Linked DNA regions of Homo sapiens: regions 1 and 3 are each linked to region 2. Evidence: fine-mapped expression QTL. A gene starts in region 2. Each other region holds a variant in brackets. All regions are shown on one strand. Distances are between the middles of the regions. Region 1 overlaps TMEM252-DT (TMEM252 divergent transcript). Region 2 holds the start of TMEM252-DT (TMEM252 divergent transcript). Region 3 overlaps PGM5 (phosphoglucomutase 5).

Region 1 (4,245 bases), 85 kb after region 2:
TAGAGTGAAGAAATCTGGGTGACACCACCAGTACCTCCCCATAGATTATTTATTCTAAAGAGGGAGAGATTCCCCAGAAGTGGAGCAGTCACACGGATACTACTTTAACCACATGATCAAAGTTACCTTCACCACCAATGGGGCAAACTGACATCAGGTGCCCCCTAATGTGACACACTGAGAAGGACACAGTGTGTGCATAATTTGAATCTCACACCAGACAAATCCCAGAGATATGTTACAGAAAAATAGGCCTGCACTCTTCAAAAATGCTGGTGTCTTAAAAGACAAAAATTGGGAGCCTTTTCATTCTCAAATAAAAGAGACTAAAGAAGCAACTGGCTTCTTAGACAACTGGCTGGGTGCGGTGGCTCAAGTCTGTAATCCCCACACTTTGGGAGGCCGAGGTGGGCAGATCACGAGATCAGGAGATGGAGACCATCCTGGCTAACACGGTGAAACCCCGTCTCTACTAAAAATACAAAAAACTAGCTGGGCGTGGTGGTGGGCGCCTGTAGCTACTTGGGAGGCTGAGGCAGGAGAATGGCGTGAACCCGGGAGGCGGAGCTTGCAGTGAGCCGAGATAGCACACTGCACTCCAGCCTGGGCAACAGAGCAAGACTCCGTCTCAAAAAAAAAAAAAAAAAAAAAAAAAAGCATGACAACTATGTAGAAATACAAAGTCCTGGGTTGGGAAAACATGTTATAAACCCCAATATTGGAAAGACTGGCAAAACTTGGATATGATTGTATTCAGTAAGAGATTCAAAGCTGTGTTAAATTTCCTAAATTTGATCATTGCACTATGTCTTTGTTTTTAGGAGACACTTGCCAATGTGTTTAGGTGGGAAAGGTCATGATATCTGCAACTTATCTCAAATAGTTCCTAACAATAATAATAATAATAAATGTACATATAGAGAAAGCAAATATAGCAAAATGTCAATAACTGGTGAATGTAGGTGAGAGTATACAGGGGTTTGACATATTCTTTTTGCAACTTTTCTAGGAGTTATATATTTTTTTTCAAAAGGAAAAGAAGCACAAGCCGAGGGAGTTCTAAACATTGAAGACTCTAACCAGTGTTTTTTTTTAAGGTCAAATATTTTAATATTATTTTTTCTAGCCACTAAATTCCATCTTAATGAAATGTCAAAATAGGAAACAGGTGAAGGAGTAATTTCCTGCACTGCCAGGCTCCTAAGAATGTACAGTATTAGCTTCAATTTCAAACCTGCAGTGTTTAGAAAGGAATTTGTTTTCTTTTAAATCCAGGTACCAAAGTTGAAAGCCCCGAATGCTCACAGAGCAGCTGGAACAAGAATTACTGCCTGCAGGCGCTTCTGTCCACCAGCCACGTGTCAGTGAGTGGCCCTGGACCCAGCCAGGTTGTGTGTGCACCTGCGGTTCTTGCCATGGGGAGCAGGAGCCATTTGGCTGCTCCTCTTCATAGGGCACCACCTGCAATCTTTCACTGCCCAGGTAAGCAGAGCATAGGAAGTCAGGGAATCAGAGCACTGAATGGATCTTGGAAAGCACCCAGTCCAACTCTCCCCACCTTCCCATCTGTGGCATTAATCACCTCTATAACGTTGTAACCAACTGGTCAACCAGCCTCTATTTGAACATAGCCAGTGGCTAAAACGTCTAAGCAGCTCATCCATTTTTGAATAGCTTAAATTGTTTGAATATCCTTTCTCTTAAGAATAAGTATCAGTACAAAATGCCTACTTCC[G/A]TTTTGTAGGTATCTGGTAAATTTTTTTCAATAAAAAAAGTCAAGTCAGATTAACTAAAATTGTGGAACAACTTGAATATTTGCAGTCAATAACTAAAGTCATATATTTCAGATCCTTCAGCAGGGCATCTCTGTAAAATAACATTTGGAAATCACAGAAATTTACTCTTAAAGGGCCTTTCTTGTTCATTACATTCTGAGATATACCCATTTTATGGCCATATATTTGAAAACAGACAAAAATACAGGAAATTTATAGGGACACGTAGTAGGCATATGTATATGTATGGATAGCACGTTTACATGTGCATAGATAGGGGACATGGGAGGATAGATATCAAGGGTATTCCTAGGGAGTGGGAGTGGGTAAAGGAAAAGAGGCTTTTACTCTCCACCTTAGACATTTTGTTATTGTTTGATTTTATTTTTTATAAAGAGTATGTTGCTATTTCTATCACTTAAAACCATTTTCTCAAAAATTTACAAAACAACAATAGAGAGAAATCACTTACATTGAGCTGAAATCTGATTGCCCAGAGTTTCCATTTTCTACTGCACTCTGGACAACTTAAGATAAGCCCACTCCTTCTTGCACATAGCAGCGAGTCAGCTGTCTGATGCCAGTCCTTGAGGCCTCCATATTTCTCTTCTCCAAGATAAATGTTCCCATTTCCTTCAGCTGTCTCTCAGTTGGCAGGAATTCAAGTCTTCTTGACTTCTTATCACTGCCCACCTCCCACTGAAGTAGAGCATATCAGGTGGGCTCAGAGAAAAACCCATTCAGAAGTTCAGGTGGCAGTTGGTCATCTATTGAAAATTAGCGAGTCCATGGTTCTTTGTGTTCTTGCACCAACTTGGCCTAACTTTTTGGGGTCTCAGGTGCTGTATTAAAGGTGCTCTATTTCATGCATCAGTGATGGATGAAAGCAGGTCTGCAGGACACACATGCAGTTATAATCAGAACACCATGGCGAGCTTTCCCAACACTTATAAAACCTGGCTGATATATCAATGCCAACTCAGCACAAGAACAGCAAGGAAAATGTATAAAGGGAATAGTAGGAAAATATGTTCCCCTGGCAATCAGAAGAATTAACAATGGTATAGCGAAGATATGCATGTTATGGCAGCACATGACCAAGATAAGAGCACATAGCAAAGCGGTCAAGAGGATCAGCTCTTCCACATATTTGCTGTGTGACTTGGGAAGGTTTCTTAACCACTCTGTGCCACAGTTTCATTATCTGTAAAATGGGGATAATAGTGGTCCCTACTTGATACAGCTAACACAAGGTTTAAATGAGCTGTTCCTTTAAAAGTGTCTCTGGCACATAAGATACGCTACATAAGTGTCTAACAAACAAAAAACAAATGAGGTGACTTTGATTTCATGGTTTCTGACTGGAATGGTCAGAGGAAATAATGTGAACAAGAGGTGTGCAAATGGACCTGCTTGGCAAATTTGAGGACTAAACTGTGCTCTGTTTAGGAAACATAACAAAGAATACAGTTCTATCGGCTGAAGCATTCCACCTGTTGCAAACACAGAGGAAACTGTCCTTTCATAGATTAGTGCTTTGGACACCTGCCTGCCTGCCATTTCTTCCTTGTCAAAAAAGGTTAAAATAGACCAACCTCATTAGTACCAGGAACATATGAATATGTTAAACGGTTGGTACAATGACTCCTATTCAAAAGTACAATGACTGAGAGGGAAACAACTACCACTCCTAGTTATTGCCATTCCTTCATTTACATGGGGCCCCATGGAGTTTATTTAGGGCATACAATTGAAGTACATTTCTCTATAACTTTCTCCTGCAATGGATCAGCAAATTTTATTTTTTTTTCTTTTTGAGACAGAGTCTTGCTCTGTCACCCAGGCTGGAGTGCAGTGGCGTGATCTCGGCTCACTGCAAGCTCCACCTCCTGGGTTCATGTCATTCTCCTGCCTCAGCCTCCTGAGTAGCTGGGACTATAGGCACCCGCCACCATGCCCGGCTAATTTTTTTGTATTTTTAGTAGAGACGGGGTTTCACCGTGTTAGCCAGGATGGTCTCGAACTCCTGACCTCATAATCCGCCTGTCTTGGCCTCCCAAATTGCTGGGATTACAGGCATGAGCCACCACACCCGGCCCCTGGATCAGCAACTTTTGTACATGAGGCAGACTGGATGTTCGGCAGAGCCAGAGTTCATACTATGCTGAACATGTCAGTAAAATACAAATTATCTTTGAACTGGGCTTTTTCTAATTCCAAGTTCTTCTCCCACTTTCTTTAGCTTTACCTGTGTTCTAATTCAAATCCCTGAGAGTGTAATGACCTTCACCCAGACTATGGGTCACTAAGAATGTTCAGTGTAGGATGTTGATCTTGATGTATTGAAAATGGCACTGGTTCTGCTAATTGTTGGTGGGGGACTCCTCTGGAAAAACATCTTGCATTACTGAGCACATTTCTTCATCAATCTTTATGAAATCTACCATTTCTCCTATACAGTCATTCTGAG
Region 2 (4,245 bases):
TCAGAAATTCACACTCTAGAGGTAGTCCTCTAACATTTATACAAAAAGAAATCATCACTCTAGAGGCATCTTCTACAATCACTTCATTTCTCTTAATTTTTAATCAAACCCAGAAACTCTGCTGGTTAGTATAACATTGGAAATAAGTTTTGGTTTTCATAATTATTATCTTATTAATTAGCATAAAGGATGCCAAAAGTGGATGCTCATGGGTAAGATTACTTATATTCAAGATACATGGAGTAGCTAAAATATTTTAGATACTTTCTACTCTTGCACGAAGAGGGCAAAATAATTATAGTCTTGTAGCCTGTATCTTGAGAATGATGCCTAGGGTGTTATCCCTAAATGGTCCTGTGGCTAGCCAAGAATTAGGAGGTTTCTTGTTGCCTGATACTGACTATAAGATTAACTGAATCTTTTTTTTCTTGTGGTAAAATATATATGACATAAAATTTACTGTTTTTAAGTGTATAGCTCAGTGGCACTAAATACACTCATATTGCTCTACAACCATCACCTTAAAACTCTCTACTCATTAAACAATAGGTCCCCAGTCTCTCCTTCCACCAGCCCCTGGGACCACTGTTCTACTTTCTGTGTCTGTGAATTTGACTACGCTAAGTACTCATGTAAGTGGAATTATACAATATTTGCCCTTTGTAACTGACTTGTTTCACTTAGCATAATGTTTTCAACTTCATCCAAGTGGTGGCATGTGCCAGGATTTCCTTCCTTTTTAAGGCTAATATTCCATTGCATGTATATACCACATTTTGTTTATCTACTCACCTGTTGATGGACATTTGGGCTATTATGAATAAATGTTGCTACAAGCATTGGTGTACAAACATCCATTTGAATCCCTGCTTTCAGTTCCTTTGTGTATAAACTCAGAATGTAGAATTGCCAGATCAAACAGTAATTCAATATTTAATGTATAGAGGAGTCTCCACACTGTTTTCCACAGTGGTTGCACCATTTTAACATTCCCACCAGCAATGCACAGCGTTCCAATTTATTGACATCCTCACCAACACTAGCTGTTTGGTTTTGTTTTTTGATGATAACTATCCTAATGTATGAGATGGCGAGAAAGAATGAATCTTGCCTCTAGAATATTATCACCTTCCCCTGAAGGAATGTTTTATGCAAGGTGAGATCACAACACCTAAAAGGACAGTAAACTGGGACTTTTCTGAGCTCACAGAGATTCCAGGACTCATTTTATGCCTGCTTCTTCATTTGTTGTGTGGCAGAATTTGGTCTGGGACTTGCTTTCCTTAGAACCTCATAGCCAGGTTATGGGAAGTAACTAACCATCACCTGCCACTAATTAATGACAGCTGCCATGATATAACAAAAGAGCCTGGGTTTCTAAATTGGCTTAGGTGGGTTTTCACTGGGGGTGGTGGTAGGGTTTCTCTGAGATGAGTTGCCCCTGCGTCATGGTTTTCCCCAAAGATGGCGCCACTCTTCCTAATAACAACCCCAGAGTAATTCCCTGACAATAAAGCTTTGGTTCTAGACAGACAGCCCATGGGACATGTAAGTCGCTCCATAGTAGGATCAGAAATTACTCAGATCTTACACAACTCAGCCCATCTCAGCCCTTCTTGGTCCCTCTGCCTGTCAGCACGTACCTGTCTACTGTGGCCACGGGCAGGGCCCCATGAGCAAGGTGTTGTCGGAGCATGTGCCTCAACACTCCTTTGCTTTCAGTCACCTGGCGATAGTTGCTCCAGAAAATTCCACTCAGAAGGATCACAAACCCCAGAGGCAGAAGCAAATAGGCCGCAATCAGGCTCCCCTGACAGTCGAATATGGAGCCCCAGGAAATGAAGAAGGCCCCCAGGCAGACCATCAGGAAACCCATCAGGAGGGCAAGAGCACAGAGAATGAGGCCAGTTCTGTTCTGCATCCTTGCACCTTAGGAACCCAGCACCCTGACCCTGCTGCTCCTCTGCTTCCCTGCTTGCTCCAAGAGAATGAGCTCATTAGCCAGCTTGCAGCTTTATATGCTCTGGGACCCACTGGCCTTTGGACAACTAAATGAAACAGGCACTTAGAAGCTATTCATTAACCATTGAAAGTAAGTGTAATATCCTTGGAGAATTAGCCAAAAAACATAGCATTGTATACTGCAGGCAGGAGTGGCTTCGTGTAGCTGTTTTGTTCTTCAGAGTTGGGTGGGACACTCAGCTGTTCCCAGTTATTTGAACGTACAGCCCTCCTTTGATTAAAAGGCGCTGGTCTCTTAATCCCCATGGAGGGCAATTCCCCACTAAAAGCTGGAGAAGTTAGCACTCTTTAAAGAACGATCTTCTTTGAGGTTTGGTAAGAAATCCCTTCCTGATTCCTTCTCCCTTTTTCTGTACTAAAAAGGCATTTCTTCAAGGCTGTTAACATGTTTGTCTTGCCTCCCTCAATGAATCCCCACTTATTGCCCCCACACTATGATACTGGCATAATTCCAAGACAGAAGTTCAGAGTGTGAACTTCGTGGTTCCTGCTCTGTTGACAAGATCGAAAGAGCCTGAGTGGGAGGGAAAGGAGAGTGCTGGAGAAAAGGACTATAATAGACAGAGCCTCGGGAATTTGGGGGGATTTTGGGCCTGTAATTCCTGCAATCTTTCCCCCTTTCATAAAGTACATATGAAATAGAATTCGTTTTAGAGGATGCTGCTAAAAATGTTCCCTGTCCTCTCCTCCACACCTCTGCTCTATGTAGCATTGCCTCAAAAAATCTTTCCAGAACCAGCCTTCTGTTTCCTGGCTGGAATTTGTTTTCTTTAGCTTGACTGTCTTTGATTGTGGATAGCTTATTTCAGACGTGCTTTATGCCCTGGCTCTGCCCTTTTTTATTTGATAATGTGGCATGTCTCTGCCAAAAGTCTCCTTCCCATAGGAACCCTGGGTTGCTTTTACTCAGGATAGCTTATCTTCAGTTCCTCTTTGCTGCTGTTCCACTCCACTACTCCATTACCATTATTTTCCATTTACTTTCCCAATGAGAGCAGCAGTTTTTTGTGGCGTGCCCTAATAATCCCTCATATAACCTTTAGTCTCACACTCACCATCTCCTTAGCTCTACCTTCATGTTAGGGCTGGGAGACACGGATATTAGAGAGGTACACACTATGGATCAAAAACTATATAAGGCACTTCTCCATTCCAACCCTTAGCCTTTACCTTTCTTAGCTTCAATTTCGACCTTGAACTACCTTGATCTTCTAGTCTTGATATTGTCTTTGTAATCTTAAAACAGCTCTTATTCCCTCCTTCCCCAAACTGTGAGATGGAATATTTCTAAGATGATCCCTAAGGATCCCACCTCCTGATATTCATGTCCTTGTGTAAGTAATCCTCTCCCCTGAGTGTAGGCTGGACCTAGTGACTTCATTCTAATCAATAGAATATGGTAACGGTGATCGGAAGTTACTTCCGTGGAGGCTACACAAGATTGTGGTTTTCATCTTTCTAGCAGACTCTCTCTATTGTCCTCTTGGCTTACGCCCTTTGAAGAAGGAAGCTGCCATATTGGAGAGGCCCATGAGGCAAGGAATTGAGGGCAGGTTCTGGCCAACAGTCACTGAAGAACTGAGGCCCTTAGTCCGTCAGCCCATGAGGAACTGCATCCTGTCAATGACCACGTGAGCTTGCAATCAAATCCTCATCCCACTGAGCCTTGAGATGACTCTGCTCCCAAGCATCACCTTGACTCAGTGACCCTGAAGTAGAGGACCCAGGTAAGTCATACTCGGATTCCTGACCCACAGAAACTGTGAGATAAAACGTTTCAGCCAGGGTCCTGGATGCCACAAGATGGCAAGAGCCATAATCAATGAATGCATTATGATCAAATCATTTCATGTTTATGGATGTCACTATTTTAACAAATAAAAGAGGTCAAAAGTTTAAAAAAAGTATATTTTAAAAATATGCTAAGTTTTGTGGCCATTTTTTAGATAGCAGTAGATAACTAAAAAAATTCTCTTAGAACTTTGAAAATCAGAAGAGACAATCAATGTTAAGTATTTATCATAGTACCTGGCACAGAGAGTGCCCTGTGAAGGTTATCTATAATCACCATCACCAATATTGTTATTATCATTGCTGTTACAATTCCAAAAATCTGTGGAAGACCCAGGACCCCCAGCTGAAAGGTCTGCACTAGGAGTTGGGTCCCAGGAACAGGTAGATGGTAAAGCCCCAGGATAATGTTAAGAATCAGGTGATGGAGGA
Region 3 (4,245 bases), 65 kb before region 2:
GCCTTGCTGCTTTCTTCTTAGAATGGAATTTATCCTCCTTGTGATTGTGCTTCAAAAATAATCAGGAACCTCTTTGAGTGAGTGGCCTCTCTTATTGTATGACCAACAATCCTGGTTTGTCCAGGACTAAGAAGTTTCATGAGATGTGGGACTTTATGTGCTAAAAGTGGGAAAATCCCATGCAAACCAGGATAAGTTGGTCACTCCAAAGCTGGCAAAGTCCTCAGTTTTCCAGATGAAAATGGCAAGGAGAAATCTTGATACTGAAGCTGACTCCAGTGAGAACCCCCCCATGTGAGCAAGGCCAGGGCCGTGAATTAAATGAGAGACCCATGGCTGCTTTCCCTTAGCACCACATTCAAGCAAAAAGAGGAAGAGGCCTCACTCACTACCCCCAGGCATTCTGCCCCAAACATGAGACTGCATACGGTGCCTTTCTGCTGAAGCAAGTGACTTTCAAGCCCGGCTGCCTGTGAAAATCACCCAAGGAGTTTTTAAAAAAGAAATACCAATGCCTGGGCCCCATCATTAAAAGTTTTTATTTTATTGGCTCAGGGTGAGACCTGAGCATTTGTATTTTTTTAAAATCTCCTTGGGTGATTCTAATGTGCAGTGCAGGGTTGAAAATTGCCAACATATGTTACAACTTGGAGTTGGCAACAGGTGCAAATTGACTTATAGTTTTCCTAATTGACAAATTTAGAATTTCCTTATCTGAGTTTCAGCTGTAATGGCTTGATCTGTTAGTAATGCATGGGATGCTTTATTGAGCTGATGTGTCCATACTGGTGTTTCCATGTGAAGAAAACATCTTTAAGATGATTGAGCATTCTCTTTATTTTTCCCTTTTCTTTTGTGAGGGCAATATACTTATTAGTGTCCTGCCTAGCTCAAGTAGCATGGTTTTGAAGATTGAGAAAATTCAAAGTTTAATTTGAGTGGAGGGGGAACAGTGATATTTCTCTAGAAAAAAAAAAAGGCCTTCTTTTTTGTACCAGTTTTTGCTGGAGTCATGGCAGAGAAGAGCTGAGCGCCCTCCTTCTGGTATGTGGATGGAGATGGCTGCTTCTCAGGGCTGCTCAGAGTAAGATTGCGTGGGCTTTGGGCTGGGCTAGGTTGGATGAGAAAGGCAAGGTGAGTGGTACTTACAGCTTTGGAAATATGGGTATATTCTCCCTGCAATGTCCTGAGCCAGGCAGCAAGCTTCAAAAATTGTGCTGGTGTTATTCAATGCTAAAAAGACACTCACTCTCAAGCCATAAAAAGACATGAAGGAACCATAAATGCATATTATTAAGCAAAAGAAGACAATAAAAAAATACATACTAGATGAGCCCAACTATATGACTCTAGAAAAGGCATGTTTTAAATGTGAATTTCTATGCACCATTGACAACTTTGTTTACTTTATTTTTATTTATTGTTTTTTTTGAGACGGAGTTTCACTCTTCTTGCCCAGGCTGGAGTGCAGTGGTGTGATCTCAGCTCACTGCAACCTCTACCTTCTGGGTTCAAATGATTCTCTTGCCTCAGCTTCCCAAGTAGCAGGGATTACATGGATGTGTCTGCCATCATGCCTGGCTAATTTTTTTTTTTTTTTTTTTTTTGTATTTTTAGTAGAGACGAGGTTTCACCATGTTGGCCAGGCTGGTCTCAAACTCCTGACCTCAGGTGATTCCCCCACCTTGGCCTCCCAAAGTGCTGTGATTACAGGTGTGAGCCACCGTGCCTGGCTAACAACTTTAAAAATTTATTTTTTTCTTATGAAATAATACGTTGTTATTGCGAAAATATTTAAAAGGAAAGAGAGGAAAAGCATCTGCAGTTCTACCACTTCAGAGATAATAACCATGTTAAGAGTTTGGTGTATATTCTTCTGTTTACTTGTGTACACACATATATACATATCTATATTTTTTATAAAAATATACTGAATATTCTTTTTTAGTAAACTGATTTTTCATTTATTAAAATTGAATGCACAATTACCTATTGGATACAATGTTTTCTATTTAAGTGATGAGTACACTAAAAGCCACTAGGCAATATATCCATGTAATAAAACTGGACTTGTACCTCCTGAAACTATAAAAATAAAATAAAATGAAAAGAATTGAATAAACATGGTTTTCTGTGTTACTAAAGATTCTTGTTTGATTTATTTTGTCTACCCACAAGGTTTTGAATGAATTTT[G/A]TGCAATGATCCTATTGTTCAACAATTAAGCCTGGGCAACACAGTGAGACCCCATCTCTAAAAAAGTAAATAAATAAATTAGCCAGGCATGGTGGTGTGCACCTTGAGTCCCAGCTACTCGAGAGGCTGAAGTGGGAGGATCACTTGAGCCTGGGAGGTCGCGGCTGCAGTGAGCCATGATTGAACCCCTGTACTCCAGCCTGGGTGACAGAGCAAGACCCTGTCTCAGAAAAATCAAAACAATATTTTTCCAATTTTTCTTTATTCTCTTATCTACTTCATTGAATGTCCTATGACTTAAGGTTAAGAAATAAAATAGCTGGGTCGAAAGCTGCATGATATTTTTAAAGACTGTTGATCATTATTGCCAAGTTAACTCTTCCCCCGTCAAACCTTTGCTAACCTGACAGGCCCCAGATGGTATCCCATTTTACACACTTTTCTTTGACCACAGTGAGGGTGAACATTTGTTCCAATGTTGACTATTATTATTTTCCTCTGACAATTGCATGCTTGTGCCTTTTCATTCCATTGTCCATTGAGGTTTCTCTTTTTCTTATTGACCTATGAAAACATTAAAAAAATATCCAGCCTATTATCCCTGTCATATATATAGTGTGAACATTTCTACTCCCATTTTTACTCTGTTTATAGTGGGGTTTTAGAAAACCATTTGATACCTTTGTGCTTTCTGGAATTTCTTGTTTAATCTGCCTGTCACTGATACAGCATAGCGTTCACTTGCCTGAAAGCCTTTTTAAAAGGAGAGTTATAGCCCCCAAATCCACTCCAAAGTACACTATAATCATCCAGTGGAAACATCTGTGTAATTGAAGCATCATTAATGTCTCTGTCCCAAACTCAAAGAACTATAAAGGGCATTGTTAATTTTACTTCATCATCAGCCCCTTATTAATCTTGGCAAATGTTTAACTTGTAGGCAAGGATGTCCAAGCCAACTCACAATTTACTATGCAATTGGCTACAAATGTTGAGGTGGGTTTTTTTGTTTATCCACCTAAAAGAACTTTATGTCCCTCTAGCACTAAATTATGACATCTTATCTCACAGATTTAACAGCATCTAATGGTTCTATCTCTAGGTAATGTAATCCAGCTGGAGTTCGAAGGTATGCAAAGCCCATGTTTTAGAACAAAAGGGTATTTTTCTCTAGCCAGTAAATAAAAGTGATTTTTTTTTTCAGCTGTAAAAGGACAAAAGGTTTTGAAGTGATCCCACTGGGCAGGGTTTCCTAAACTTGTTTTTTGGCAGTTGGCCATGGAGCTAACTCAGTCTTCCAAACTTCTTCCATTTTTGTAGCAGTGTAAAGAATTCACTGGATAAGACTAAAGACACTTCATGGTGTGATGATTAATGCCCAGGGTCCTGTTAACCCAGAGGCAACCACAACTGGACATCCAACAGTGCCATTAGCAGACCGTTGATCAGTGTGTAGGAAGAACTAAAAACCTGACCCTTTTTCTTATTGATTTTAGTACCTTCACAGCCCCCCTCAGGTTTGCATGTTTTCCTTATTGAGAAAAAAAGTTTAACATTTAACACCATAAATGTCACAAGTACGGTAAATGGTCTGTAGCTTTAGTTAGAAGTTGTCAAAGATGTTTGACTTAAGTATTGTTTGATCCCATTTTCAGGGGTTAAACAGCTCTGTGGCGTTGCGTCTCCCTTGTTGGTTTTCCATGTATGTTTTGTAGTTCTGAAACCCAAGAATACTGTTGTCCATTCTCATTGCCCTGCTGCAAGAAGGTCCACTCTGTGGACCCAGTCCTGTTTCTTAAGACATTACTATTGCTAGAGTGAGAGGATAAAATTACATGAATAACCAAGAACAATTTCTGAAAGCAGGTATTGAGGAATCAGCACCTTGCAGTAATTCACACAGCTTTATTAAAATTACCAACAACAAGATCAACAGCAAAGATATGTGATATCCCAGCCACTGTTCTGAACATCTGGGCATATTTAGTTGCTTAATCCTGACAGTAACCCCATGGGGTAGGGGCTGTTATTGTCCATAGATTACAGATGAG

The links. PIP is the estimated chance that this variant, and not a neighbour inherited with it, causes the effect. A credible set is the group of variants that fine-mapping cannot tell apart.
Region 1: its variant is the best candidate, but not a certain one, in a credible set for the expression of TMEM252-DT in whole blood (TOPMed, PIP 0.59).
Region 3: its variant is the best candidate, but not a certain one, in a credible set for the expression of TMEM252-DT in whole blood (INTERVAL, PIP 0.85).

Annotation. Positions count from the first base shown.
Region 1 is chr9:68,624,366-68,628,610 of GRCh38, forward strand. It overlaps TMEM252-DT (TMEM252 divergent transcript), which reads left to right. Exons shown (of 5, transcript NR_187592.1): 3 at 1,276-1,482. It overlaps LOC105376071 (a long non-coding RNA gene), which reads right to left. Exons shown (of 3, transcript XR_929902.3): 3 at 2,132-2,667. Among named protein-coding and RNA genes, the nearest start is that of PIP5K1B, 79 kb to the right of the region's middle. The variant G/A (reference allele first, on the strand shown) is at 1,736.
Region 2 is chr9:68,538,894-68,543,138 of GRCh38, forward strand. It overlaps TMEM252-DT (TMEM252 divergent transcript), which reads left to right and starts at 2,132. Exons shown (of 5, transcript NR_187592.1): 1 at 2,132-2,337; 2 at 3,485-3,749. TMEM252 (transmembrane protein 252) reads right to left here and starts at 1,990. Exons shown (of 2, transcript NM_153237.2): 1 at 1,644-1,990. The coding sequence starts at 1,921.
Region 3 is chr9:68,473,600-68,477,844 of GRCh38, forward strand. All of the region lies in intron 7 of PGM5 (phosphoglucomutase 5), which reads left to right. Among named protein-coding and RNA genes, the nearest start is that of TMEM252, 65 kb to the right of the region's middle. The variant G/A (reference allele first, on the strand shown) is at 2,195.